4 linked regions of the Homo sapiens genome follow. Each later gene encodes a partner of the first gene's protein in a complex. Each region holds a gene or a part of one and is shown on either strand. Other genes may lie near its edges. The genes, in order: PPP4R4, PPP4R3B, PPP4C and PPP4R1.

Region 1 (7,366 bases):
TTTTTTTTTTTTTCCAAGTTCTATAGGGTGCTGGCTTATGGCCCCATTTCATATTGAAAGCCAGCAGTCAGCCAGGTGTGGTAGCTCATGCCTGTAATCCCAGCACTTTGGGAGGCTGAGGTTGTCCTTGAGTCTAGGAGTTCCAGATCACCCTGGGCAACATGGTGAGATCTCGTTCCAACAACGACAACAACAAAAATTAGCTGGCACACAGCTGTAGTCCTAGTTACTCAGGAGGCTGAGGCAGGAGGATCACTTGAACCTGGAAGGTCAAGGGTGGAGTGAGATTCTAGCTCAAAAAAAAAAAAAGTGGCTGGTTGCATCCTTGCATGGCATCACTCTGACACTGAACTTCTGCTTCCCTTTTTCACGTAGAAGGTCCCTTGTGATTACACCGAGCCCACGGAGGTAAACGAGGATAATCTCCCTACTTCAATATCCTTAAATTAGTTGCATCAAAATCCTTTAGGCCATGTAAGGTAACATGCCCATATGTTCAGGGAATTAGGATGTGGACGTCTTTGGGGAAACATTATTTTGCTTCCCATTATAATCAATTGATTCAGCACAACTTCTTGACTCTGTTCTGAACCTGGGTTCAGAGGGACACTGGTCTGGTGACAATGATAATAGTAACAACAAACACTTGTGCCAAGAATGTTTCTAAGCATTGTATGCATATTATCTCATTTAATTTTCACAACACTTTGTACTAAGTGCTACTATTATTCCTAGCTTAGCGATGAGTGAAGTGAGGAGCAGAGAGGTGAAATACTTTGCTGAAGATAGGGAGCAGCAGAGTTTGACTCAACCCCAAGTACCTGAGCTTCGAAGTCCATGTGCTTAGTTAGCACCATGCTATTTTTTTTTTTAATTTTATTTTTTGACAGGGTCTCATTCTGTCGCTCAGGCAAGAGTGTAGTGATGCAATCTTGACCTCCTGGGCTCCAGTGATCCTCCTGCCTCAGCCTCCCAAGTAGCTGTGACTACAGGTGTGCACCACCATACCTAGCTAATTTTGTTATTTTTTGTAGAGACGCTATATTGCCAGGGCTGGTCTTGAGCCCCTGGGCTCAAGCAATCCTCCCACCTCAGCCTCCCTAGTAGCTGTGACTACAGGTGTGTGCTACCACGCTCGGCTAATTTTTGTATTTTTTGTAGAGACAGGGTTTCACCATGTTGCCCAGGCTGGTCTCGAACTCCTGAGCTCAAGCAATCCACTTGCCTCAGCCTCCTAAAGTGTTGAGATTACAGGCGTGAGACACTGTGCCCGGCCTACCATGCTATTTTTAAATGAATAAACAAAGTGGATAAATCTAGTTTCAGTTAGCTGTGTGTTCATGACTAAGTCACATAAATTCTCTGAGCCTCAATTTCATTATTTGTAAAATTAGAATAGTGATGCAGCTTTTCTGCATTCCACAGGGATGATTTGAGGGCACGTTGAGACAACATGCATGAAAGCAGTTCAGATAAGGAAAACAGAGATCCAAGAGTCATTCTGCCACATGTCACTGGCAGAGCCAGGACAGGGACTCAGGTTTCCTGGCAGCCAGGCTGGGCAGGCTACTTCCACCACAGAGTGGTAATTAGAGCAGTTACAAATTCCAGTCATCAAATTGAACATTTTCCCTTCATCACCCTCCTGCCCTGGAACGGCCAACATTAAAGCCGTATCTGTATATTCAATCAATTGTTCATTAAGAACGCCCTCCAGTTTTAGAAGATACTGTTACAAAATCCAAATGTGAGATAATACTTCTTAGCTGGAACAGGGTAAAGTTGACAGGTAATATTTTGTATCATTTACAAATCAAAAGGCAGAGAATTTCAGAAATTGACAGAAAGGGGAGGCTGTAAGATATCTGCTTAAGAAAACCACCTCCTCATGTGTTTGCCTCTTTTCCATCCTCATCCTATGTTTCTGTCCTCTTCTACTTCCCTTCACTTTTCCTTAGTAAAGCAGGGATTAGAAAACCTGAATTTTAGCTGTGGGCATCATTATTGACCATTTTGCTTTGAATTTCAAAGGCAAAATTGAAGAACAAAAGAGCCAAGAGTGGGAGATTCACTCTACCAGATCTTAGGATGTATAATTAAGCCACAGCAATAAAATCAGCACAGCACTAGCATAGGAACAGATCTAGATCAATAGAATAGCCACAAGAGCTCAGAGACAGACGTGTGTGTCTCTAGGGACTTGGCATACGATACAGACGCCATCATGCATCTGAGGGGAAAAGATGGATTGTTTGGTGGGTGCTGCTGGGAAAACTGGCTCACTAAATAGAGTTAATAATACTGTATTCCTGCTCAAACTGTATGCAAGGTGAACCCCAGGTGGATTAAGACCTGTGACAGGTAAAAGTATGAAGCCAACTAGGGGAAAATGTAGGAGAATATTTTGCGACTAACAGGTGGGAAAAGATTCTTAAACAAGACCCCAAGACCACACTGCACAAGGCTAAAATTTGATGCATTAGGCTAAATGAAAATTAAGGATTTCTCCTCCATTGCAGCATAGCAAAGACCAAGCAAACAGGATGCATGAAAGATTGAGAGAAATATTTGCAGTGTTTTTCTAAAACTGACAAAAGATTAATATTTAGAACATATAAGAAACTCAACTGCTTCAATTCATTCAGAAAAAATAATAAAATCCAGCAGAAAATAGGTAAAGGATGTAAATAGATAATTCACAGAAGGAAAACAATCTCGATGGTTCTTAAGTATATGGAAAAATGGTTAACACCACCAATCAAAAAAATACAAATCGAAATTACAATGTGATACTACTTTACTGATTTCAGATTGACATAAATTAGGACATCGGATAATACCAAATGTTAGCATATAAAATGGGAAACGGGTACCTTCCTACCTTCATGTGCCATTGGTGGGTGTGAATGGCAAAGCCATCTGGAGGCCAACATGACAGAGTGAAACCAAACACTGTGGACTTCATGACCCAGCGACTCAATTTCTTATGTTCTGTAAGGGACACGTCTAACATCCATTCCAGCATGGTCTGTGGTAGTAAGGAACTGCTGGCGACCTAACTAGCCGTTATTTGAGGAATTGATAAGTAGAATATGATAGACACACAAATCAAATATTATTATTAGTCATTATTAATGAACTCTTGTTGTATAGTGTCACATGGATAGATCTCTAAGACACTGAGAGAAAAACAAGGAACAGAATGAGTTCTCATCACAATGCCGTTCATATATGTTAAAAACAGACACAAACCATGTATCTTTTGAGGCTGTATACGGTGCATGAACTGGGACATACCTTAATAGAGGAGAGGGTGCATATGGCGGGTAGAAGAATGGGTGTGGAGAAGGAACGAGTAAAAAATAAAAACAAAAAAGAAAAGGGCCTTGCTGACTGACGAGCTGAACAGTACGAACTTGTCCCCAAGGTCCAAAAAAATCGCCCCAATCCCCCTTCCATCTCGTCCCATTCTTAACAGAACCAAGTGCAAGGGACTCAGCGTGGCTGTCCAGAGCAGGGCTTTTCTTCATCAAGGACCTAGGTCCTCTTCCTTCCACCCACCTCGCCACGCCCTCGGTGCCCGAGCCCCGAGCTGTACTTCGACGGCACTTTTCAAACACAACCAAACACACCCAGGCTTCAACCCCGGACCGGCTTGCTTTTATTATTTCTCTTGGGAAAGCCTTATCGGTCGCTAAGATTCAGTTTAAGTGACTCTTCTCTGGGAGGCCTTTTCCGAATGCTGCCCTTGACCAAAAGCCAGCCCCTCCAGGGCTGTATTCCCACAGCCCCCTCCCCCGTCAGCCGGGCACCCCGCGTCCTAACTGCTTATTTTGGGCACTCAGCGCTCCCCTCAGGGCTGGAGTTGTGCTGGGGGGGGTCTCTGGGTTCACGGCCCGCCAGCTGGGGTGGGCGGTCCTGGGAATAACTGGACAGTTAAGTCAGCAGGTACAGCCGCAGCCCAGCCAGCTCCCTCTCCTCTGCTTCCGCTCTCATTGGCTCAGCCTCCCCGCCCCCCAGCCCCCGCCCCCCAGCCCCCCTCCCCAGCGCCCGCCCCCAGCGCCCGCCCTCAGCCGGCTGCGGGAGGCAAAAGGCTCTGCGCACGCGCTGTGGGGTGGGGCACACTTGGTTGGGGGCGGACGGGGGTTTAGGAGAACGGCGAGGAGCGGGCGCAGAAGGGTGGCGGGGCCGCCGGGTCGTTGCGCGGCAGTTGCGTCCGGCCTCTTGCGCGCGGCGCCCGGGAAGGGGCGGGGCCGAGGCGGGCAAGGTGGCGGGCCCCCGCCCCTGGCCCCGCCCCCGCAGCCCGCCCGCGAGCCTCGCCCCGCCTCCTCGCCGGGCCCGCCCCGCCCCCTCGCCGGGCCGTGCTCTTGCTCCCGCCGCCTGGCAGCCTCACGCTCGGCTCCAGCGGCCAAGAGCCGGAGAAAGTCCTGCTGGTGGGCGGCCGCGGGGCTGAGGGCGTCCGGCATCCCGGGGCCGCTCCGGCCCGGGCGGCGAGAGTGCCCGGCGGTCCATGCATCCGCCGCCGCCCGCCGCCGCGATGGATTTCAGTCAGAACAGCCTGTTCGGTTACATGGAGGACCTGCAGGAGCTCACCATCATCGAGAGGCCGGTCCGCCGGAGCCTCAAGGTGCGCCCCGGGGAGAGGACCTGCCCTCACGGCGTCCGGCCGCCTGCCCCGCGCGGTCCCGCGCTGATCTCTGCCCCACGCCACCACCCTCCCCTCCTCCGGGCCGCCGGGACCCTCTCAGTCGGGCCGGCCCCTCCTCCTCCACCCCTCTTGCCGTGTCGCCCTAAGCCAGTTCCCTCTCGGACCCTTCCTCAGAGCGGACCGGGTCCTCTCTAGTCTGGACCCCCATCCCCAAGGGACGGGTCCCTGCCCCAGCCCCGGACCGGCGCCAGCCCCGCGGCCCTTGCCCCTCCTGAGGCGTCCGAATCCCCCCGGCCCACCCCCAGGAACGGCCGAGCTCCAGCCCTCGGGGCAGCCCCAGCGTCCTCCGTCGCGGACCCCCTTCCTTCCGCCCCCCCCCCCCAAAGGAGCTGCCCCTCGAGGCCGCAGCCCACTTCTCCCCGGTCCTCTCCTGGGCTCCCCAACCTCTGGTCCGCTGACGCCGCCCGGGTTCTGGCCCCAGGCCCACCCATCGGTCCACACATTCCCAACTCCTCCCCCCACCTCTCCCGGAGACACCACCCCGCGTCCCGTCCCCTCACCCCCAGCCCAAGTCAGATCAAGCTCGGGTCCTTCTGCCCTCGAGGTAGCCCGGCCTCCCCTCGCTTCCCAGCCAGCACTCTTTCTCAGTGTCGTCCTGGTCCCTGTCTACAAGCCCTCGCGACCCTTTGCCGCCATCCTGAGTCACCGCTCATCCTTTCCTCCCATCCCCTCCAGGACTGTAGCTGGGACCCAGCTCCCCAATCCCCTTGAGGGGGTCAAGCTTCAGCTTGCTCCCCCCACCCCTACTGGCTCTCCCACCCCGCAGAGTCATCTTCCTCCCGGCGGCTCCAACCTTTAGCGCCAGCAAACCTAGTTTACGGACCGGACCCCTTTCCCCTGGCCATTGCTTAATTAGCTGCCTTAGCGCCTCTCACTCCCACCTGCCGCAATATCTCAAATCTCTGGTTTTTTTCCAGCCCCGGAGTTTATTTCCTTCCCTCCCCCACTCCAGATCTTGTCCTTTTCATGCCTACTCGGCTGCAGTCTTCATCCATCTCCCTTTTAGCATTTCTTGGGGTGGAAAATGCTGGAGAAATAGCCTTGAAGTATTAGAGATAAAAAGTGTGTGTATTCGTTTTATAACATGCGTATGAAATGGATTTCAGCCAAGGTTCTGAAGCCACGATGTGATTTTCAAGCTGCAGTCCAGGAGCTAGAAGGATAAAAACAGAAAAATACAGCCCCCTCCCCAAACTCCCCAAACCACCCAATTAGAGACCTCCGTGATTGATGTCGCCTGGTATCCTCAGCTCCTTGATTAGTTTTCATTGTTAATGCTTAATTGTGAAACTTTTTCATTCGTTTATCCTCATAGAGGGTCACTGGGAGGTTGGGGGGCAAGACTGAACCAATATTTGTGGTGCATAAATGTGTATTTTACCCTTGACAGACACCGGAAGAAATAGAAAGATTGACAGTCGATGAAGACCTCAGTGATATTGAAAGGGCTGTTTATCTGCTCAGGTATTTCCTAGTCTTTCTGTGAAATTGCTCTTCTTTTTTCCCTGTGCAGCAGAGATGAATGCTTTCTAAAATGTATGTTCGCGTTATGTTCAGATTTACTTAGCCACTTGAACAGAGTACTTTTGTGTGCATAGTACTTAACTATATTATAAATTAGATTTGGCTATGGACTTATGACTTTGAGAATTTAAATAAAATACCTAATTTATAGAATGTTGCTTGGAGGAGCAAGAGCAGATGGTTGGAGTTGAACCTCATCCTTTTTTTCTTTTCTGGCTTTGGTTTTTCTCGCGTAAGATTCAGTAAGTTTACATGAGACTTGAGTATACAGTGATTAGTTTTAAGTTCATTGTAGAGTAGGAACATTATACGGGATCTACTATACGGAAAAAAATCCACAAATATGGTAGTTCATTTTGCTGTTCAGGATATCCTGTTTGTATTACTTTTGCCGTGCAAGCTTTATGATTTTGTCTGAGGGGTTTTAGAAATTTGGTCGAGCCTACTGTCATTTCAATTTCAAACCATCTCACAGGCTCTACAGAATTGCTTAAGGCAAATGGTTATTGCAAATATTTACAAGATTTTTCTGAACTATTTAAAACATTGTCTTGTAGATTGAGCATCTTAAAAACTAATACAGTGAACATGAATGATGTTTTAATTAATTGATTAAAATCCTTTAGAAACAAATTTCCTACAGCATTTTGCGTTTATTTAAAATTGTTCATTAGCTTACACAACATATTTTTCCCTTTTGGCAAATTAGTCACTCTTTTTTTTTCCAGAATCAGGTTTTGAAAACTGATGTAATTTACCTCCTAGGATATTTGTCACCCTTGTTTCCTTAGTTCAGCGCCAGTTTCAGGTACTGGCAAGTTTCTCGTTCTCCTTTCTTGTTTACAGATCATGTTCCAGTCCCATGTTACTCATTGAATGATTCTGTAAAAAAAAAAAATCCCTCTCCAGGTCTTCAATTTTCTTAATTACTTTTTTAGCCTTCTAAAAGTGGCATCATGAGTTTCTGTTGTAACTTTAGTCAGAATATCAGCATATTTACCATGTAGACCATTCCCTCTGATAATTGTATCATTTAGAAATGTTTCTGCATCTTAGACTTTATGTTGATGTTATTTTCCCCCCTCTTTGGGGTATCTGTGGTAGCATGCTCTCATCATTTCTATTTACTTCAAA
Region 2 (7,492 bases), on another chromosome or scaffold:
ACTCGGCCCACCAGGATGTGTCTGGCTTGTGCTCAGGCACGAATCCTGCAGCCACCATGGCCTCAGCCCCTGGCAGGAGGGGGTGTGTGAGTGAACGAGTACAGGGCAGGAGTGGGCTCTGTGCGGGGCTTGTGGCTGGACCAGGTGTGTCACATTGAGGGAAATGTGGTGGCACCCAAACAGGGGTGCTCATGACCCTGAAGCCCCAGAGGTGTTACAGTATGCTAAGCACTCTTTTAGTTCTGCCGTCTGCAGGCCAACGGACAGTGGCATGTTAACAGCTCTATCAGTCCCATTGCCCCACTCAGGCCCGTGGCTTCAGGACTGGCTCTGCCCCACTGCTGCTTCCCATCGCGTTGTGTGGGACGGTTGCCCTCCACCAGCAGAGGGCAAAGGGCCACAGTGTGTACAGCCTTCTTTGTATCTGCGTTTGGTGGGTCCCGAATTTTTCTTCAGCGTCCAAGAATGAGGTTACGCTGACAATCAAAGGGTGAGGAGGGTGGAGAAGAGTTTTATTTGAACTATGAAACAGCTCTCAGGAGAGAGAGGATGCAAGGGTGGTCCCTCACTCAAAGTCAGGTGGTCTCTCTCTCAGTGCGGCTGAGTCCACAGCTTTTATGGGCTCAGAATGAAGGCGTGCATGCTGATTGGTTTGTGAGTATGCAAAAAAGGCTAAAACAACAGCACCACTCAAAGGTAGGTACAACAGTGTAAAAAAACAATTAGGAAAGGATATGTGTAAAATAGGTGAAGGGTGGGGATCAATCAGAAGAAAGCACGCCAAATGGGAAGAGAGGTTCTCAATCTGGTCTGTGGATTTATCCTGGTCTTGTGGCTAGCCTTTAAACTGTCCTCAGCTTGAAGGGTTTCACCAGGGACCTGCCCCTGTCTGCCTAGGATTTGTCTGCCTTTTGCGGCTATCACAGTGGGATACTATGTAGCCATTAAGTAGAATGAGTTAGCTCTATATACACACTGACCCAAAAAAGGCTGTCCTGGGCACGGTGGCTCACCCCTGTAATCCCAGTATTTTGGGAGGCTGAGGCAGGTGGATCACATGAGGTCAAGAGTTTGAGACCAGCCTCACCAACATGGTGAAACCCCATCTCTACTAAAAATACAAAAATTAGCTGGGCGTGGTGGCGGACACCTATAATCCCAGCTACTCAGGAGGATGAGGCAGGAGAATCGTTAGAATCCGGGAGACGGAGGTTGCAGTGAGCCGAGATGACACCTCTGCACTCCAGCCTGGACTGTGTATGGAAAAAAAGAAAGAAAAAAAAAGTGGGGGACAGGGGTTCAGATATGGTGGCTCACACTTGTAATCCCAGCACTTTGGGAGGTCAAAGCAGGCAGATCCCTTAAGCTCAGGAGTGTGAGACCAGCCTGGGCACCAACATGTAGAGACCCTGTCTCCACAAAAAATAAAAAGGAAGGAAAAGAATAGTATTCCATTACAGTCATGTGTCCCTTAACAATGGGGATGCTTTCTGAAAAATGCATCATCAGGTGATTTTTTGTTGTGTGAACATCATAGAGTGTACCTAAACAAACCTAGATGGTAGCCTACTACAGAGGTCCCCAACCTTTTTGACACCAGGGACTGGTTTTGTGGAAGACAATTTTTCCATGGAAAGGGGGAGTTGGATTCTCATAAGGAGTGCACAGGTTAGATCCCTTGCATGTGCAGTTTACAATAGGGTTCTCACTCCTACCAGAATGTAATGCCCCTGCTCATCTGACAGGGGGCAGAGCTCAGGCCGAAATGCTGGCTCCCCTGCCACTCACCTTCTGCTGTGCCGCCCAGTTCCTAACAGGCCCTGGACCACTACTGGACCACTACATACATATCTACATATAATTACCTGTATATGCATAGAATATCTCTGGAATAGGACTAGATACATACTTTGTGGGCCCAGTGCAAAATAAAACCGCAGGGCCCTTGTCCAGAAACTTTCCTGAATTTCAAGTTAGTGACAGCAAAACATTAAACCAAGTGCCTATCTGTACAGGTCACCACCATGAAGCCAGCCCTGCTCTGGCAACATACACAGGAAAATGGAATAGAGGTGATTCCAAGAGGAAAATTCTATGAGTGGCAGGAGACAAAGACTAAAAGAAGACTTAGTTTTCACTATATATCTTTGCCTTTTTTTTTTTTTTTTTTTTTGAGACAGTCTGTCACACTGTCCCCCAGGCTGGAGTGCAGTGGTGCAATCTTGGCTCACTGCAACCTCTGCCTCCCAGGTTGAAGCGATTCTCCTACCTCGGCCTCCCAAGTAGCTGGGATTACAGGCCCCCACCACCACGCCCAGCTGATTTTTGTATTTTTAGCAGAGACAGGGTTTCACCACGTTGGCCTGGCTGGTCTGGATCTCCTGACCTCGGGCAATCTGCCCACCTCGCCCTCCCAAAGTGCTGGGATTACAGGCGTGAGCCACCATGCCCGGCCTCTCTTTTTAATTTCATATGTGTAAAGGCATTACTTATTCAAAACAACAAAAAAGGAAGATTGTGGGCTTATTTGGTTAGCAACTCTTTGAAGTGGAACTTTGATGACTGCCTGAAGCAAAGAACATCTGCTGGGGAAGATGTGGTTATGGGGGGCCCTCAGACTTGGATAAGCACTGAGCCCTGTGCTTTGGAGGGGTCTGAAATCCATGGAATCATGGGACTGTAGCCACCTGCAGCCCACTTTCCCTTTTCCAGACCATGCTGTGGGCACTCTAGTATTCCCTATCCCAAACGCCAAGCCTGACTCCAGGGTCTGCACAATCCTCTTCCCAAGTTCAGTCTTCCTGGGGAGTAACCAAAGGGTGAGGCTTGGACAGAAGGCTGGAGAGTCTAACATCAGGCTCAAAAATTGTGTGAAGCATTCTCTGACTCTTCCAAGACAGAAATGTTATTTTCTCTGAGGTCAAAATACATTTTGTCCACTTTCATCACATCAATTAATTGGCTCTATTGTTATGTATTATATTATGATGATTTTCTTCAAGTACATTTTCTGAGGTCTCTAGATTAAAAAAAAAAACTATGAATCCAGATTTTGAAATTATTTCTATCAGCATGTGTTCTGTACACTGACCCACGTTGTAGTGTACTGCTGAAGGGTGTCCACACTTAAGCGATCTGGTCAAAACATAAGCACGTTTTAACAAGACCATTGATTAGTTATGACTACAACTCCCAAGATGCACTGCAGGGTCAGTGTGCGCGTCTCGCCTAGTTTTCACCGATCAGGCTAATGAGCTGCACAGAAGTGGCAGCTGAACAAGCTGAGAGACTGTATTAAAGAACGAATATAGCGGGGATGGGGAGCAGGCGTCTACGGTCCCAGCTACTCGGGAGGCTGAGGTGAGAGGATCGCTTGAGCCCTCAAGGCGGAGGCTACAGTGAGTCGAGATAGCGCCATTGCACTCTAGCCTGGGAAGCAGAGAGAGACTATCAAAAACAACAAAACGAATAAAGGGATTCTACCAAGAGTGAGCTGGACTGAAATAAACGACACGCTACTACGACCCAGCGCGTGACTATATCCACCGCACAATGTGCGATAATAGCCTCAATGCAGAGAGAATTCCTCCTTTCCTTATTCAGTGCAAGAGAGCCCTATAGAGAACGCAGGAAATGCCCGCGAGAAACTGAGAAGTATCAAAACAATCACAGATATGTTAGGAAAGTAGCTCCCCGCCACTTCCCTAAACTTATCATAGCAGACTTACTTTCCAAGGTTACAAACACAAGAAGAGCACTGTATTTTCATGAAGCGGAAAATGTGCTTTACAATCGCCAGCTACTAAGAGCCTTAACGGTGAAGCGCTCTGCAAGAAACAGGAAATCGTCAACACACTTTCTGCATGAATTGCCTGGAGAGTTGTGTCCATAGACAATTCCTGGTTAGATGCTTAATTGTAGCAGACTCCATAACGGGGTTTAGCGGGTTTCCATTCGGCAGAAAGGGCTCCACGTTCTTTTTCACAGAAAGGTTTAAACTTATTTTTCCTCCTCAGGCGGACGAAGTGAGCGTCGTTCCGTGAAGGTATGAAACCCTTTTCCTTCCTTTCTGTCCCTGGTTACTCCGGTTCAAGGCTACGTACTTCCCCGGTTTGCTTTGTTTTTTCCTCAGAGCTAAGTTCCTAGGAACGTCACATACTGGTGCCATCCAACAACATGACGACGTGCGGAACCGAAGTCCCCTTCCACCTAGCGGCCTCTCGCGGCGCAGGCGTGGACGGGGAGATCGCGAGAACCTCCCGCCCAATTGCGACCCCGCGCCAAGAGGCGGGGCCGAAAGAGGAGGAAGTCGGGCCGAAAGAGGAGGAAGTCTCGCCGAAGTACTCCCGCCCCAGTCGGTACCCCTCCTCGCGAGAGCGCCGAGCATTCCGGCCTGGGAAGCGCGTGCAGAAGCGGAGGTGCTGCTCATGGGACTTGTCGGCCGCCGTAGCCCCTGCTAGGACAGCCCGTGCGAGCCTGCTGGAGGAGGAAGAGAAAGGCAGAGAGAGTCGGGTTACAAGATGGCGGATCTGTAGTAGTTACCGCGGCGGCGGGAGAGCAAGCGAGCCCTGGGGGGCAAAGAGACGGGAGAGTGGGTGTATGCGCGGGTGAAGTGAGAGGTAACGGGGCCTCCGGGCGGAGAGGCCTCAGTGGCTCTTGTCACCCCTTCTCGCGGCTGAACCTTTGGAGCCATGGTGAATTCGGGCCTCTCCGAAGCCGCCGCCGCCGCCACCGCCACTACTGCCTTTACCGTCTCCTAAGAGTGAGGAGCGCGGACGAGGTAAGCGAGGAGGCGGCGGCTAGAGCGGTGGAGACAGCAGCCACCATGTCGGATACGCGGCGGCGAGTGAAGGTCTATACCCTGAACGAAGACCGGCAATGGGACGACCGAGGCACCGGGCACGTCTCCTCCACTTACGTGGAGGAGCTCAAGGGGATGTCGCTGCTGGTTCGGGCAGAGTCCGACGGTAAGGTTATCGGAACTGTAGAATAGGGGATAGTGCCTCTGGTTGGGGCACAGCTTGGGTTTAGGGCCCTGGGCCCGTTACCGTTGCTACTCCTTCGGGACAGCGCGTTGGTTCTGAACTGGCTCTTGTGTACGGCAAAAACAAAGTACTGTACTTTTGACTGGACTTATCCTCGGAGACCGAGACTCTCTGTCCTTCTCCCATCTCTCTTAAGGATTGGACTCCTTCCTTTCCAGTCCCTCCTCTTTTGAAGAGGGGAGAGTGTGAGAGAGAAGGGAGGAAGTAGTGAGAGACTAGGTACTGATGTCGCCCTAGGAGCTGACACCTTCCTCCCCCTTTATTTACTTATCCATTATACGTCTAGTACAAACGGTTTAGGGAAACTTTTCTTTCCGAGTGTTTTTAAAAAAAAAAAATTGTACCAACGGGCCCCAGGTGCCACAGTCGACAGGTGCTGGGGAAAACCGAAAGGCACGTTTTCCTGGCTGTATTGCTGACTGTTGCCACGATACATGGACACACAAGCACATACATCTGTAGTCTGCATTTCTTCGGGCTGCCTTTGTAGAAGGCGCTATGAGAAAGTGAATGCCTTACAATCTAAGCAAGTTGGGACACCAAAGCAGGTTGTAAACTGCTGTGTTCTTTGGTTTATTGTAGTCATGTGAAGTATTTTAAATTACAAAATGTAGAGCCGTAATTAAAATGCCTTTTATAGTATAATCTGGACTTGATTTGAACAACTGATATAGGCAGTTAGAAAAATAATCTTAGGTTTAGTCTTGACATATTTTGTATTCTTGCTTGTTCCCTTTTATTTTAAATAGTCATCACTTCTACAGAAGGTGTTCTTTTGTTCTTAATGAGGAAAGGATAAATGCAGCACTGTAATTTCTATACTAAGTATTTAATCCCTGTCATGATGTTTTTGTTTTGTAATTTGCATTATTTGTTAAACTGGGAATGCAATAAAACAACTTTTGTTAAAACGAATGGCTTGAAGTGGTCATTTAGACCTTAAAATTTTTATTTCAATAAAATTTTAATAGTCATCTAGTCTCCTCATTCCTTGGTTTGATTGTTGGTTTTAGATTAATTTTTCCTTTAAGGGTGTATGGGAATAGGGTGAAATATTTTAGATTAAATGTGAAGCCTAGATTTGGAGAGAAAATGTGAATTCGAATACATTTTATTAAGATGTCCAACTCGGTAAAAAGACTTGAAAAGTTTGCGGGGGCGGGGGGCGGGGTTTAAATGTGTATTTTTTTTTTTTTTTTTTTTTTTTTGGAGACAGAGTCTTGCTCTGTTGCCAGGCTGGAGTTCAATGGCGCGATCTGGGCTACTGCAACCTCTGCCTCCTCTCCCTCTCTCTCAAGCGATTCTCCTGCCCCACCCTCCCGTGTACCTGGGACTACAGGCATGCGCCACCACGCCCAGCTAATTTTTGTATTTTTAGTAGAGACGGTTTCACCATGTTGGCTGGAATGGTCTGGATCTCTTGACCTCGTGATCTGCCCGCCTCCCAAAGTGCTAGGATTACAGACGTGAGCCACTGCGCCCGGCTTTAATGTGTATTCTAATTTTTATTCAGGGTTTTATCATTTGAGACTTATGATGTATTATTTTTTATCTTTCAGGATCACTACTCTTGGAATCAAAGATAAATCCAAATACTGCATATCAGAAACAACAGGCAAGTAGTTGTTTATCTTTAATTTGAAAGACTTCATCTGTGATCAAGGAAGTATTAATCTGACAAAGGTGGGAAAGCTTTCCTGACAAGAAAAAAACATGTTTGGTAAACAAAGATCATGTGTATTTCTCTTGCAGGTTAAAAGTTTCAGACTGAAAAAAAGTTTTTGTACTGGTGATAATTATCATTTTTGGATTGAGCCACTGTCGGTTTATTCTAAGATGTATTTATTAGTATTATTTAACTGTAGTTAGCCAAGTCTCTTCTATACCTTGTACATGAAACCTTTTATTCTGAGTCACGTTTAAAGGAAATGACATAGAACAAAATTCAAAGGGATACTCTTAAAGCAAGGAAAGCCTGTTTGTGGTGTGAAATTAAATCCTTTGACTCAAGTAAAGGTAGAGGTTTTGAAGTAGAAGCATTAAATCCTGCTCTTTAATTGTTGTGTATTTTTAATATAGTAATCAATGGATACTTTATAAAAATGTACATTACCAAGTATGTAACATCTTCTGTTAATATTGTCTTATTTGGGAAAGAAAATGTGTATTGTATTTTAGCACGCCTGATTAATCTGAAAATGGTAGCAGTGATTCAATCTTTTTTATTCTGTGAATGTTTTTGTTTTTATTATGAAATATATTAAAATTGAAAAGTACAGAGAATAATCGGTGTCTACTGTAACACCACCAGATTTAACAATGTTAATGTTACGCCATATTTGTTTCAAATATTTTTGTAATATTGAACATTATGGATAGAGTTAAAGCTTGTTTGTATCCATCCCGTTGTTTACATTCTCCATCCCCTACATAGGTAACCACTATTC
Region 3 (6,914 bases), on another chromosome or scaffold:
AGGCCACACTGGGGTTGCGCTGGCACTGAGGGGGGCTTTGCAGAGAGCACGGGCCCTGCATGTGACCTCCCTGGGCTTCAGGTTTTCACTCAGGGTCTGTGGAAGGGGCTGGCATAAATTCTCAGGAAATTGGGCTTCTGGGTTCCAATTTAGCCACTCTCCAGCTTGGTGACCTTGACCCTCCCGCTTTTCTGTAAGCTTTGGTTTCTTTTTTTCTTTTTTTTTTTTTTTGAGACAGAGTTTTGCTGTTGTTGCCCAGGCTGGAGTGCCAGTGGCCTGATCTTGGCTCACTGCAACCTCCACCTCCTAGGTTCAAGTGATTCTCCTACCTCAGCCTCCCAAGTAGCTGGGATTACAGGCACGCGCCACCATGCCCAGCTAATTTTTGTATATTTACTAGAGACGGGGTTTCACCATGTTGGCCAGGATGGTCTCAATCTCTTGACCTCATGATCTGCCTGCCTTGGCTTCCCAAAGTGCTGGGATTACAGGCATGAGCCACCGCGCCCGGCCTAGCTTCGGTTTCTTTACTGTTACGTGAGGCTGAAGAGAACCTCCCCAGTCTGTTGGAAAGGTCACTATGAGCAGTTGATGGGGAAGGATGTTCAGCACAAGAAGCAGTGCAGGTGGGAGAGTCCGGGTACTGATGTGGCCTCTTGGACCACCGCCAGTGCTGCCTTCTGTTCCCAGAAAGCCAGGGCAGACCTCCTTCGTGCTGCCTCTGCCATACAGAGCAAGGGGCATAAGTGAATCCTCCTGTCCACTGAGCTCAGGAAACTCATTCTAAGGGAAGAGATTGGCAGAAAGAGGGGGGCCAGGCGAGTTGGGCCTCCCACATCAGAATATCTTGATAAAGAGTCAGACCCCAGAGCCAGGCTTCCCTGGTTCATATCCCACCTGTGTCACTGGCACCAAGCCAGCCTCCTTCCCTGCTTCAATTTCTTCATCTGTGTACCGGGAATCATCATAGTACCTGCCTGCCAAGCTCTTAATAACATTTGTGGCACACAGTATGAGCTCGAATGTTCACTGCTGCTATTACCAGGCAAAATTTGGAAATACAGTGTTGCTTAAATTGGGTATCTATAGGCTGGGTGCAGTGGCTCACATCTGTAATCCCAGCACTTTGGGAGGCAAAGGTGGGTAGATCACTTGAGGTCAGGAGTTCGAGACCAGCCTGGGCAACATAGTGAAATCTCGACTCTACTAAAAATACAAAAATTAGCTGGGCGTGGTGGTACATGCTTCTAATCCCAGCTACTCGGGAGGTTGAGGCAGGAGAATCACTTGACCCAGGAAGCAGAGGTTTGCAGTGAGCAAAGATGGCGCCACTGCACTCCAGACTGGGCAATGGAGCCAGACTCTGTCTCAAAAAAAAAAAAAAAAAAAAAAAATTGGGTGTCTTACCTGGCAAAGTGATTTCATCTCCTGCTCACTCAAGTAGAAGTAGACTGCACTGCAAGGAGAAATAAAAAATATTTAAGTCCTCATAGTCATAAAGAAATACTGAACACATGGCAAGAGCACCTCACTTTTTTTTTTTTTTTTTTGAGATGAAGTCTTGCTCTGTCGCCCAGGCTGGAGTGCAGTGGCGCGATCTTAGCTCACTGCAGCCCCCACCTCCCAGGTTCAAGCGATTCTCCTGCCTCAGCCTCCCAAGTAGCTGGGATTACAGGCACGCGCCACCACGCCTGGCTAATTTTTGTATATTTAGTAGAGACAGGGTTTCACCATGTTAGTCAGGCTGGTCTCAAACTCCTGACCTCGTGATCTGCCCACCCTGGCATCCCAAAGTGCTGGGATTACAGGCATGAGCCACCGCACCTGGCCAAGAGCGCATCACTTTGAAGGCGCATCCACTGTGGGCCTGCCCTGGGCACCTACCCTTGTGTCTGGATAGCCTGGGAGAAGGGCTCTGTGATTGGCCAAGGGTGACTTAAGCTCTGCTGTGGAGAGGATGGGGAGACCCGCCTCCCAGGAGTGAGTCCTGGATGCGGAAGAGGGAGCGGCAGGGGGAGTCAGGGCTGGAAAAGTCCCAGCCTGCTCAGAAGGCCTGGAACGCTGGGATAAGAGGTTGGACTTTGTCCTTTTGGCAGCAGGGGGCCACGGAAGGGTGTTGCATGCTGAAGGGCCGTGGTCAGCCTGTTTTGGGGAGACTGTACGCTTCACTCCTGCCCCCTGGAGCTTCCAGGACTGCCTCATATCCTCCCCTCCCCCCAAAAAAGGTCAGGAATTGGGCTGGGCTGGCCTGGCTGTGGTGACCCTGGTCTTCTCCTGTCTCCAGAGAGATCTTGGTAGAGGAGAGCAACGTGCAGAGGGTGGACTCGCCAGTCACAGTGAGTACCTGCTGTCCCTGCAGAGCCAGGCCTGGTCTTTCAGGCACATGAAGTTTCCTCTTCATCTTGGGGGCTCTATAAGCCCAACCCTAAGCTCTTTTATCTGTCCTTTCCCTCACCTTCAACGGAGCACTGCTAAAAGAAGTGGGGGTTGCTGTGCACGTTGGCTCACACCTGTGATCCCAGCATTTTGGGAGGGCAAGGTGGGCACATCACTTGAGGTTAGGAGTTCGAGACCAGCCTGGCCAACATGGTGAAACCGTTTCTACTAAAAATACAAAAATTAGCCACGCGTGGTGGCACGTGCCTGTAATCCCAGCTACTTGGGAGGCTGAGGCAGGAGAATCGCTTGAACCCCAGAGTTGGAGATTGCAGTGAGCTGAGATCAGGCCACTGCACTCCAGCCTGGGTGACAGAGGGAGACTCCGTCTCAAAAAAAAACAAAAAAAAACAAAAAAAACAGGCCGGGCGCGGCGGCTCACGCCTGTAATCCCAGCACTTTGGGAGGCCGAGGCAGGTGGATCATGAGGTCAGGAGATCGAGACCATCCTGGCTAACATGGTGAAACCCCATCTCTACTAAAAATACAAAAAAATTAGCCAGGTGTGGTGGTGGACACCTGTAGTCCCAGCTACTCGGGAGGCTGAGGCAGGAGAATGACGTGAACCCAGGAGGCGGAGCTTGCAGTGAGCCGAGATCGCGCCACCGCACTCCAGGCTAGGCGACAGAGTGAGACTCCGTCTAAAAAAAAAAAAAAGAAAGGAAAGAAAAGAAAGGGGTTATGGGAAGGGACTTTGGATTTGTTAGTGGAGATTCTTGGCCAGGGCAGAAGGACTCCTATTTGGCGAGTGATTCTGCTCACATATCTCCAGGGCTCTGTGTTAGTAACTTGATTCTGGGTACTTTGTGGGGAGTAGAGAGAGGAAGGGGCCGGGACATCTACCTGGAAGGACTTAGTTCTAGCTCTTGCCTACAGAATAGTTGGTACTCAGCATAGGACAGTGGGTATGGTTCCAGACCAGACTGACTTGGGGTGGGAGAGGAGAATTTTGGTCCTAGGAAGTAGAAGTGCAGCCAAGAGTGATAAAGCTCACTAAAGCAGCGGGTGTTTGGAGGGTAGTCCCTGGCAACTCCCACTGCTTGAGTTCCAACCCCACTCTTCCTGTTCCCCAGGTGTGCGGCGACATCCATGGACAATTCTATGACCTCAAAGAGCTGTTCAGAGTAAGAGTGTGGCCAACACTGTGAAATGTAACGGGGGGATGACTGGAAGACCCCTGTAATTGAGGGTGGGAGCCTTAATTTGGGGCGTGGAGTGGGGGCAAGGGGCCCCAAGTTAGATGGGTGGTTGTGGAAGAAGGGCCTCCGCTGGACAGAAACAGGTAGGGGGTAGGGGACTGTTTACGACAGGGCAAAACTTTCTACTTCCCCACAGGTAGGTGGCGACGTCCCTGAGACCAACTACCTCTTCATGGGGGACTTTGTGGACCGTGGCTTCTATAGCGTCGAAACGTTCCTCCTGCTGCTGGCACTTAAGGTGGCAGTCCCCGGCTTCTGCACCCCCAACCTGGGCGACCTCGGGCCGGGCCTGTCTTAGTCCGTTCCGCCCTCATCTCCTATCGTGACCAGCCCCACCTTGGAGCTGTGTCACTGGTGATGGACCGATTCTGCTTTTGGGGGTGGTCAGAGACTTGATGGGGGTTGAGGCCAGCGGGGCAGCATTCTGGGAGGGGCAGAGGCTCACTGTTGCGAATGTGGCAGGTCATTGATGCCACTGGTGGGAGAGGCAGTGTGGGGCCAGATGACAAAGGGCCTGGGTGCCTTGCTAGGGACCCGGTCTGTGTCTGGTAGGTGAAAGAAGAGCCATTAGGTTCATAGTTGAGGGAATGGGTCAGCTTTACATTCTCTGGAGGGGTCGTGTGGGCCTGGGAGGTGGCTGATGCCACACGATTCAGGCAAGAGGTGCCAGGAGTGTGCTGGGCAGTGGTTGTGAGGATGGCAGGCTGGCGGGCACGAGGAGGTCAGAGAGGGATGTGTGGAGAGACCGTCTAGGCGCCAGCCCTGGCTTGGTGGCCACCCCCAGGTTCGCTATCCTGATCGCATCACACTGATCCGGGGCAACCATGAGAGTCGCCAGATCACGCAGGTCTATGGCTTCTACGATGAGTGCCTGCGCAAGTACGGCTCGGTGACTGTGTGGCGCTACTGCACTGAGATCTTTGACTACCTCAGCCTGTCAGCCATCATCGATGGCAAGGTAAGCCAGCCCAGGGCTCCATGGGACAGGGAGAGGAGGGGGGCTTCAGGCCTCAGCCCCGTCCTCTTTCCCTGCTCTCCCCTGTAGATCTTCTGCGTGCACGGGGGCCTCTCCCCCTCCATCCAGACCCTGGATCAGATTCGGACAATCGACCGAAAGCAAGAGGTGCCTCATGATGGGCCCATGTGTGACCTCCTCTGGTCTGACCCAGAAGGTGAGGGCATGTGGGCAGGGGCAGGCAGGGACAGCCAGGAGGGGTTGGGAAAGAGAGGGAGCAGGGCTGGTCTTCACTGTCACTCGTCCTCCACCTGCCAAATGGCTGGAACCCTGGAGGAGGAGCAGGGAGGCCTGCATGGCAGGTGCTTTGAGCACACAGTGGCTTGGGGCATGGCCCAGAGGGCTGTGGAGGACAACCAAGTCATGGCTCCCTGAAGTGAAGGGGCCTTAGAACATGACAGCAGCTTCTTCAGAGGTCAGAACCCCAGAATGGTAGCCCCCTGAGACCCCTCATTTTGTGGGTTTTCCACTAGTGTAGAGCAGAGCTGAGATTTAAAGTCAGGTCTTCTGAGGACCAGCCAGAGTTCCTGTTGTCACAGGCACACACGCACAGGCAGCCTCTGCTCCAGCGCAGACACACACACACATACACATAGCCTCTGCTCCATCACAGCCACACACACGCACACGAGGCCTCTGCTCCATCACAGCCACACACATACAGACACACACATGCAGACACACACATGCAGCCGCTGCTCCACAGTCACTCCGGACCTCCCTGTGACAACACAGGGTGCCCTTCTGTCTCTGGGAGTGCCCCTTTCACTCTTATGTGCTGTTTGGACGGGGATTGTATGATCACTGTGATTATGAGGGGGCCCCAGGCATTGGGCGTTCTTTCTCCTCTGGAGCTTATCTGCCCCTACATTTGCTGTCCTGGTCCCCGCCATCCCACAGACCATATTCAGGCCCCATGCTCTGGTCCCACGGGCCTCTGGTGGACTTGGGGAGGGGCCAGGCTGCTCACCCTCAAGGGGCAGCGCTGGCAGCCAGAGAAGCCTGAGGACATCCCTCTCCATCCCTCCCTTTCCGCATCAGACACCACAGGCTGGGGCGTGAGCCCCCGAGGAGCCGGCTACCTATTTGGCAGTGACGTGGTGGCCCAGTTCAACGCAGCCAATGACATTGACATGATCTGCCGTGCCCACCAACTGGTGATGGAAGGTTACAAGTGGCACTTCAATGAGACGGTGCTCACTGTGTGGTCGGCACCCAACTACTGCTACCGGTGAGCCGGCTGGGCCGGGCTGGGATGGGCGGGCATCTGAGCCGAGCTGCTCCTGACCCTGCTGCCCCGCCTTCCAGCTGTGGGAATGTGGCAGCCATCTTGGAGCTGGACGAGCATCTCCAGAAAGATTTCATCATCTTTGAGGCTGCTCCCCAAGAGACACGGGGCATCCCCTCCAAGAAGCCCGTGGCCGACTACTTCCTGTGACCCCGCCCGGCCCCTGCCCCCTCCAACCCTTCTGGCCCTCGCACCACTGTGACTCTGCCATCTTCCTCAGACGGAGGCTGGGCGTGGGGGGGGCTGTCCTGGCTCTGCTGTCCCCCAAGAGGGTGCTTCGAGGGTGAGGACTTCTCTGGAGAGGCCTGGAGACCTAGCTCCATGTTCCTCCTCCTCTCTCCCCACTTGAACCATGAAGTTTCCAATAATTTTTTTTTCTTTTTTTCCTTCTTTTTTCTGTTTGTTTTTAGATAAAAATTTTGAGAAAAAAAATGAAAAAATTCTAATAAAAGAAGAAAAATGGTTTTTGGGTTTGTGCCAGACTTGGTTGGGAATGCACAGGGTTGCTGGCCTGGGACCTGGGGTGGACGTCAGGGCCTTGACTGCCTCAGGGCCCCGACCTGCCAAGAGGGCCAGGCTCAGGCCAGTCAGCTTGCCCAGGGCCTCCAGGGGCCGCTGCCTGCTGGCTTCCCCAGCCCTAGGGAGAGGGCTCTGTTCTCATGGGCAGCCTTATCTTATTAACAGCATACACACACAGGCACACACAGAATCACAGGATTCTGATTTCTCCATTTTCCTGAAGAGGAGATGGGCCTAGAGGGCCAGTGGATTTTGTGCTAGGTCAGGCAGCTGGAAACACAGGTCTAGATCTGGGCCTGGGTCTCCTAGCAAAGCCTTTGCTCACCCAGCCCCGCCCAGGGCCAAACACAGGAGCCCAATGTTTCCTGAGCATGGATGGCTTTTGAGTTTTATTAACAAAAATACTCTGGTCCCAGAACAACAGACTGGTGTGGCCTGCACCAGTGTGTGTGGGGGG
Region 4 (7,031 bases), on another chromosome or scaffold:
CAGAATATTCAGGAACAAAGGACTTTTGGACATATGGCCAGTTGAAGGACCACTTCCCATCTCTTGTGAAGGGAGAAAGAATGAGGGGGAACACTGGGCCATGGTGCCTCCTTAGAGAGCAAGATGGTTGGTAAAGGACTGAGACAGCTGTCACATCCTGGAGAAGCTGGAGAAGGTAGAGGACCCAAAGGTAGAGGAACGGAGCTTGGGCTGCCCTTATAACACGGTTGTTATCTCGTGAGCCTGAGTTTCTCTGTCTATGGTAAAACTCCAGAGTATGGAGCCCAACCTCCAGAGTAGTTGTAAACAAGTCCTACTACTTCAGCCAAGCTAGGTGTAAGTTGGCCCTTGGGATGGGAAGAAATTGTTTTCTGGTCAAGCTCTAGAATCTTGGTTGACCTTCCTAAATGCAGAACCTGGACTATGAGGGAAGAGACAGTAAGTTCTGTTGTGCAGATGATCTAGGAAAGGACCTAGCTGGAGTCTAGGACTTGAAAGAGGGGCATTGCCAGACATTGCTAAGAGTCTCAGGTCTTTCGATTTGATTTGTTTTAATCCCGTCTCTGTACAGAGGCACAGAGTCGGGGAAAAGGTTGGTCAAAGACTGACTTGACTGATAACCTTTGGAGGAAAAAAAATCCTAATGAGGGAAAAATGGATGGTATTTGTGTGTGTGTGTGTGTGTGTGTGTGTGTACACATAATTTCATTGAAGGAGTTTCATTAGAACTTAAACTTTTATCAAGTAACTTATAAAGGTAAGTAAATGAAATCATTATCAGGTACTCTTAAATTTAGGAGAATAGGCTGGGTGCAGTGGCTCATGCCTGTAATCCCAGCACTTTGGGAGGCCGAGGTGGGCGGATCACGAGGTCAGGAGATCGAGACCATCCTGGCCAACATGGTGAAATGTCTACTGAAATACAAAAAAAAATTAACTGGGCGTGGTGGCGTGCACCTGTAGTCGCAGCTGCTCAGGAGGCTGAGGCAGGGGAGTTGCTTGAACCCAGGAGGTAGAGGTTGCAGTGAGCCAAGATTGTGCTACTGCACTCCAGCCTGGCGACAGAGCAAGACTCCGTCTCAAAAAAAAAAAGTTTAGGAGAATAATGCAATAAAAACCATATGTATTTAAGTTTAAAAGTGAAACTTTCAGTACTGTATCATGAAATACTTTGAATTTCAAATTGAAAGCAAACCAGTGACTCCATTTGAACATAGGTTATCTCAGCAGATTTCAGAGTTGGGTAAACCCTTTTTAACTTTTTATATTTAATTATGTTCCTTAAATAATGGGAGACAATACAAAATTGTAGATGTTTAGAAAAAATTATTTCAGATTTCTGTTTTAGTTTCCAAAGATGCAATTTTGATTCACATTTAAGTTGGTAGATTCCTAAAATGAAATGAGACTAAGATACGGTTAAGATTTGATGAGCCAATGCTTGTAAAAATAATTTCATTGAAGGAGTTTCATTAGAACTTAAGCTTTTATCAAAGTAATATGTTGAAGAATGTTATTTTTAAAGAATGGCTATGTAACGCTTAGTTTACAGTGCCTTTCATACACAGGTTATTCTTCACAGCAGTCCTGTGATGTGTAGGCTGTGGTATTCTAATACTAATAAGTAAGTTGACTAATGCCCAAAGGGACTAAAGAAACAAAACTCCTAAGTTTAGACGGAATTTTAAGCTAGGCCTTCTGATTCTAAATATCATATTTTGAATATTTTCTTAAATGGCCCAGTTTAAAATATTGATCAACCCAAACTTGTACAGGCAATTTCTTTGAACTCGTTCTTAAAGTACCCTTGAAAATTAATCTGGGATGCTGCATGTGGTTTAGTTTACACCTGGAGAATGATAGAGAGGATGGAGCTTGGGTATAAGACAGCTTATTTAGTCGTTAACTTTTATCTCAGCTGTAACTAAGTATGACGTTGAAAAGTTTTTGAAGCTATGTTATTGAGTATGCCATACAACAGACTTTTTTCATATTTAAGTTTTGGAATCCTTTTACATTATGCTGTTTTTCGGGTTTAAGGGCGGTGTTGAAGTAGAGTGAAGGATGGGTCCAGAACTAACTGAGGGTAACCGCCTAGACCGCACTCTGTGCAGAATCTTCAGGCCTTCCTACCATGTTTCAAAACCAGTTCTGATAAGCTTAGAGTCCTTGCTTCCGGTGGGAGGTGAGGAGCAAAATATTGGGGCTGTATCTGGTAGTGGCCAGGGAATCATTCAGAAACCTTTGGAAGGTGCCCTTGAACGTGAATCATATTTAGGAGTATTGTTAAATAGGGATTTGGGAGGGTGAGTCGTGAGACCTGGTAGCCTGTTTTGACTGCTGCCAACAAGCCTGGATGGAGAGATCTTTATTTAGAGATAATATCATTGATATCTTAGAAAAGAGTGCTTTTAAAATGGTTTCAGTGGTACCCACATGTGTGTTGGATCAATTAATGATACCTCTGCTAACAACTTCCCACATAAAATTGAAAGAGAGAGAGAGAGAGACAGAGAGAAAAACCCCTTTGTAAATATGCTTGGGCCTGTAGCTACACGATCCACTGCCCTCCCCCCTCCAAAAAATAAAAAACCAAGACACCTAAATGCATACTTTTTGTTTGTTCCTGCCTGTGAAAGATAAATAGACCTCAGGAGGTAAAGTTCAGAAGTCTGCTGCCACATTTGTTTGATCTCTGGTTTATTATTTCTGGTCCTTTTCTCTCAGTCTCCTCAAAACAATGAATGTATGTTTATTAAACTATTGTTACCTTGCTCCTATGTTTGTATTACATCTTTTTTTTATATTTTGGAGTAAAAGAATTTGAAAGTTCCTAAATTTGAATTAGAGTTGTGTTGTTGTTTTTAAATTGGAGCTGAGAATAAACCTAACTTAGTGTTTTGGGCAGAAGTCTGGATGGCACACCTATGGAATTTTGGCTGAGGAGGTATTCCCTCTAATTTCTATAAGAGGGTCTGGAACTTGCTCTGCTTTTAGCACAGATCTTTGAGCTGGTGACATCATCAATGCTGCTTCCTCCACATTCATTTCTTAACTCTCCTAACTTTTAAGTCATCTTAGCTTCTTATCTCCCTAGACTAAGGAGCAAACTTAACTTACTTTCTGGCCTTATTGATATGAATGTGGTTGGTATTTGAGCATCTATCATGCAGTCATTCTGGAAGATACCTCAGTATAGTTTTGTGTAGGGGAAAGAACACTGGGCTTGGTAAGCCTTTAGACCTGAGTTAATATTCTGGCCCTGCCATTTATTCTCTTTATAATCTGAGCAAGTTAACTTTTTCTCAGCTTTCTACCTTTAAAATGTTGATGGATTTTTGGATCATCTGCAGTTTTTTTGCTGTTACAAATAAAGCTGCTATGAACATTCACACACAAGTCTGTGTGAATATATATGTTCTTTCTCTTGGGTATACATCTAGAAGTAGAATGGCTGTTTAACTTTTTAAGAAACTGCCAGCCCGGTGCGGTGGCTTATGCCTGTAATCCCAGCACTTTGGGAGAACGAGGCGGGTGGATCACCCGAGATCAGGAGTTCAAGACCAGCCTGGCCAACATGGTGAAACCCCGTCTCTATTAAAAATACAAAGAATTAGCTGGGCGTGGTGGTGCATGCCTGTAATCCTAGCTACTCGGGAGGCTGAGGCAGGAGAATCACTTGAACCTGGGAGGCAGAGGTTGCAGTGAGCCGAGATTGCATCATTGCACTCCAGCCTGGGCAACGAGCGAAACTCCATCCAAAAAAAAAAAAAAAAAAAGAAAGAAAGAAAAACTGCCAAACTGTTTTCCAAAGTGGTTATATCATTTTCCATTCCCACCAAAAGTGTATGAGAGTTCCAGGTCCTCATCATCATTGTCAACACTTAGTGTGAGCAGTCTTAATTTTAGCCACTCTTATTAAATGTATAATAGTATTAATTTGTGGCTTGAATTTGCATTAATGGCTAATTATGTTACTCTTTTTATGTGCTCATTTGCCATCTAACTTATCTCCTTTGGTGAAGTGCCTTTTCACATCTTTTGCTCATCTTTTCATTGGGACATTTTCTTATTAAATTTTGAGAGTTCGTTATATATTACAGATACTTAAGACATATACAAAGGCAGATGGACCATCATGTCTCTACTACTCGGTTTTGACTTTCATTTATCCATGTTTCTGTTTTTGTTTTTTTTTTTTTGAGACAGGGTCTGGCTCTGTTGCCCAGGCTGGAGTGTAATGGCACTATCTTGGCTCACTGCAACGTCTGCTTCCCGGACTCAAGTAATCCTCCCACCTCAGCTTACCAAGTAGCTGGGACCACAGGCCTGCACCACCACGCCTGGCTAATTTTTTTGTATTTTTGGTAGAGATGGGGTTTTGCCATGTTGTCTAGGCTGGCCTTGAGCTCCTGAGCTCAAGCAATCCACCTGTCTTGGCCTCCCAAAGTGCTGGAATTACAGGTGTGAGCCACTGCACCCAGCCTGATGTAGATCACTTTTATATTTAAATCTATGAAATTCATTTTTGATAGAAATAACTCATTTATTCAATACTTCATTTATTTAAGATTGGTGGCAATTTGGACCTGAGTTAGTTCAAATTTTGTATTTGGATTACCTGTGGGAAAAAAGGTTACTACCAAAGTAATTGCGTTAAGAGTGCAAAGAAAATTTTTACTCACTGAAGGGAACAAATATCTATAATATTTGGGAGATCCACAAGTGTATGTCAGAGCAAGTGCTTTGTTATACTACCTTTCTGTTAAATACTGTTTGTATACATAATCTTGGTAACTAACTTGAAACTAGATAAACATGCCACTACTGTATTATATAAATAGAAATACATTATACATATGGTGTATATATATAAATATAAATACATATATGAATATACATATAGTATACTTCAGCAAATTATTCTTGCCTTAAATTCAGTTGTGCTATAGGACAATTTTGCATTTCTAAGGATTTAGTAAGCTTTTAGTATTGATATTTGAAGGAAGGGTTTCTGATAAACATTATTTATATTATTGCAAAGTACAAAATTAAAGTTTGACATACCTGTTGCTGGAGACTATAAAGATTATGTTGTATGGTCCCTGTAAAAGGCCAAATATTAAATAGTTTAGGTTTTGTGGACCATATGATCTTTGTTGCAGCTACTCAGATCTGCTGTTGTAAGGTAAAAGCAGCCATGACAATACAGAAATGAATGAAAGTAAGTGTCATCCAATAAAATTTTATTTACGAAAACAGAAGGTGGGCCAGTTTGGCTCGCTGGCTGTAGTTGGCCAACCCCTTCACTGTGCTATAAAATCCAAGGTCTGTAACATTTTTATTCTTGACTCATCACACAGTGTTCAGCAATACATCTCATCAGTGCTTAATGTAGAATAAGTATTGAATGAATCTTGATGTTTCACACCAAGCTAAATAAGACCGTAAACCTAATTTGGGGTCAAATAATGAAATTATTTTTAATTAAACTTGTTATTTTGAAAACTTTCAGACCTATACAAAAGCTGCACAGATATTGTAATGAATTCCCAACTCTTCACCTGAATTAAGCTGTTAACATTTTGCCAGTTTGCTCGTTACTTCTCTATACAGTTATGTACACACACACAATGTAATGTAATTTTTTGGTGTACCTTTGAAAATAGGTTGTGGTCATTGGGACCTTTAGCCTGTGTCTCCTAAGAACAAGGGCACTTTTACAATCATAGTAATGAAATTTGGGAAATTTAACATTGCTACAATCCTGTTATATAGTATGTAGTACATATTGAAATATCCCCAGTAATGTCCTTATGGCAACTGTCTTTTGCTGTAAGGACATTACTTACAAACTTACTAGTTTGGAACAATTTCTCAGCCTTTAGCATTCATGAAATTGACATTTTTGAAGAGTCCATTTGGTTTTATCTGTTTCCTCATGATTTGATTCAGGTTATTCTTTCCTTTTTTTTTTTTTTTTTTTTTTTTTTTTTGACAGGACTGCTACATAAGTGATAGTGTAGTTTTCTCAGTGCTTCAGATTAAGGAGCACCTGATAGCAGTGTCCATTACTGGTAGTGTGGAGGTGATGTCTATCAAATTGCTCCACTGTAAAGATTCTGTTTTTCCTATTGTAATTAGTAAGGAAATAGTTTGACAATGGGGAAATACCCTGTTTCCAAACATTTACCCATTTAGTGTTAGAATGTGTTGATGATTCTTGCCTGAATTAATTGCATTTACTAGCTGACATTCTGCTTTATAGAAGAGCCTGATCTTCCTCCCTATTCATTTGTTGGTATATTTATTTGTTAAAATATAATTTTAAAGCCCCAAATCTTTATAAGGTAACTCATTCTGTGGTGTATCTCATTGTCTTTCATTTTCTAAAATGTAAAGATGGGAAACAAAATGTGGCCGATTTATTGTGGCCTGAGCAGTATCTAGGGAAAAACTGAAGGGAAGGATAGACTATGAGCTTTTTTATGTTTTACGTTACATTATTAGAGATTATGTAGAGAATAGAAGGGTGTTTTGATCAATTTTGATAAAAGTTTGTACGAATTAAAAAGTTCTCTTTGGTGTGATACTTCTCAAGGTATTAATATGCTAATGTGCTTGTGAATATCTTAGAGAAGGATAAAGTATAGTAAACTCTTGACTTATCAATTATCCCTATGGACTACATTTTCATTAACAAATATTAATGAATGTGCCTCCATGAGAAGCATTGGACTCTGTTTTTTAGATAATGAAAAGTTTAGCAAGACAATCTTTAGGGAATTTATATATGTTGGGGAGGGAGAGGAGAAGGGAAGGTAGGAGAATATGAAAAAAAGGAAAAATACTTTGCAATTATTGGTGGAGTAAAAGCAAGGGCACCCAAGACGGCAGGGAATTAAAAGGAAGAACTCTTAATTAGAAAATAGAAAATGCCTCCTGGGTGTTGTTAGTAATAGGTAAATTTAAGCTGAGATGAGGTTAGAGAGGACAGAAATGGAACAGATGAAACCACATAAGACAGAAAA

Evidence for each region.
Region 2: PPP4R4 (region 1) and PPP4R3B share a complex: the UniProt entries of both Homo sapiens proteins name them as parts of the PP4 complex.
Region 3: PPP4R4 (region 1) and PPP4C share a complex: the UniProt entries of both Homo sapiens proteins name them as parts of the PP4 complex.
Region 4: PPP4R4 (region 1) and PPP4R1 share a complex: the UniProt entries of both Homo sapiens proteins name them as parts of the PP4 complex.

The regions. Positions count from the first base shown.
Region 1 is NC_000014.9:94,169,956-94,177,321, forward strand, and holds the start of PPP4R4 (serine/threonine-protein phosphatase 4 regulatory subunit 4), read left to right. Parts: upstream 1-4,366; 5' UTR 4,367-4,510; coding exon 4,511-4,627; intron 4,628-5,097; exon of another isoform or gene 5,098-5,252; intron 5,253-5,505; exon of another isoform or gene 5,506-5,772; intron 5,773-6,098; coding exon 6,099-6,172; intron 6,173-7,366. UniProt on the Homo sapiens protein: Putative regulatory subunit of serine/threonine-protein phosphatase 4.
Region 2 is NC_000002.12:55,614,619-55,622,110, reverse strand, and holds the start of PPP4R3B (serine/threonine-protein phosphatase 4 regulatory subunit 3B), read left to right. Parts: upstream 1-4,488; 5' UTR 4,489-4,825; coding exon 4,826-4,967; intron 4,968-6,604; coding exon 6,605-6,660; intron 6,661-7,492. UniProt on the Homo sapiens protein: Regulatory subunit of serine/threonine-protein phosphatase 4 (PP4). May regulate the activity of PPP4C at centrosomal microtubule organizing centers.
Region 3 is NC_000016.10:30,078,975-30,085,888, forward strand, and holds the end of PPP4C (serine/threonine-protein phosphatase 4 catalytic subunit), read left to right. Parts: intron 1-2,225; exon of another isoform or gene 2,226-2,284; coding exon 2,285-2,336; intron 2,337-3,509; coding exon 3,510-3,560; intron 3,561-3,771; coding exon 3,772-3,873; intron 3,874-4,419; coding exon 4,420-4,593; intron 4,594-4,680; coding exon 4,681-4,807; intron 4,808-5,691; coding exon 5,692-5,881; intron 5,882-5,958; coding exon 5,959-6,088; 3' UTR 6,089-6,402; downstream 6,403-6,914. UniProt on the Homo sapiens protein: Protein phosphatase that is involved in many processes such as microtubule organization at centrosomes, maturation of spliceosomal snRNPs, apoptosis, DNA repair, tumor necrosis factor (TNF)-alpha signaling, activation of c-Jun N-terminal kinase MAPK8, regulation of histone acetylation, DNA damage checkpoint signaling, NF-kappa-B activation and cell migration.
Region 4 is NC_000018.10:9,604,532-9,611,562, reverse strand, and holds part of PPP4R1 (serine/threonine-protein phosphatase 4 regulatory subunit 1), read left to right. Parts: intron 1-7,031. UniProt on the Homo sapiens protein: Regulatory subunit of serine/threonine-protein phosphatase 4. May play a role in regulation of cell division in renal glomeruli. The PPP4C-PPP4R1 PP4 complex may play a role in dephosphorylation and regulation of HDAC3.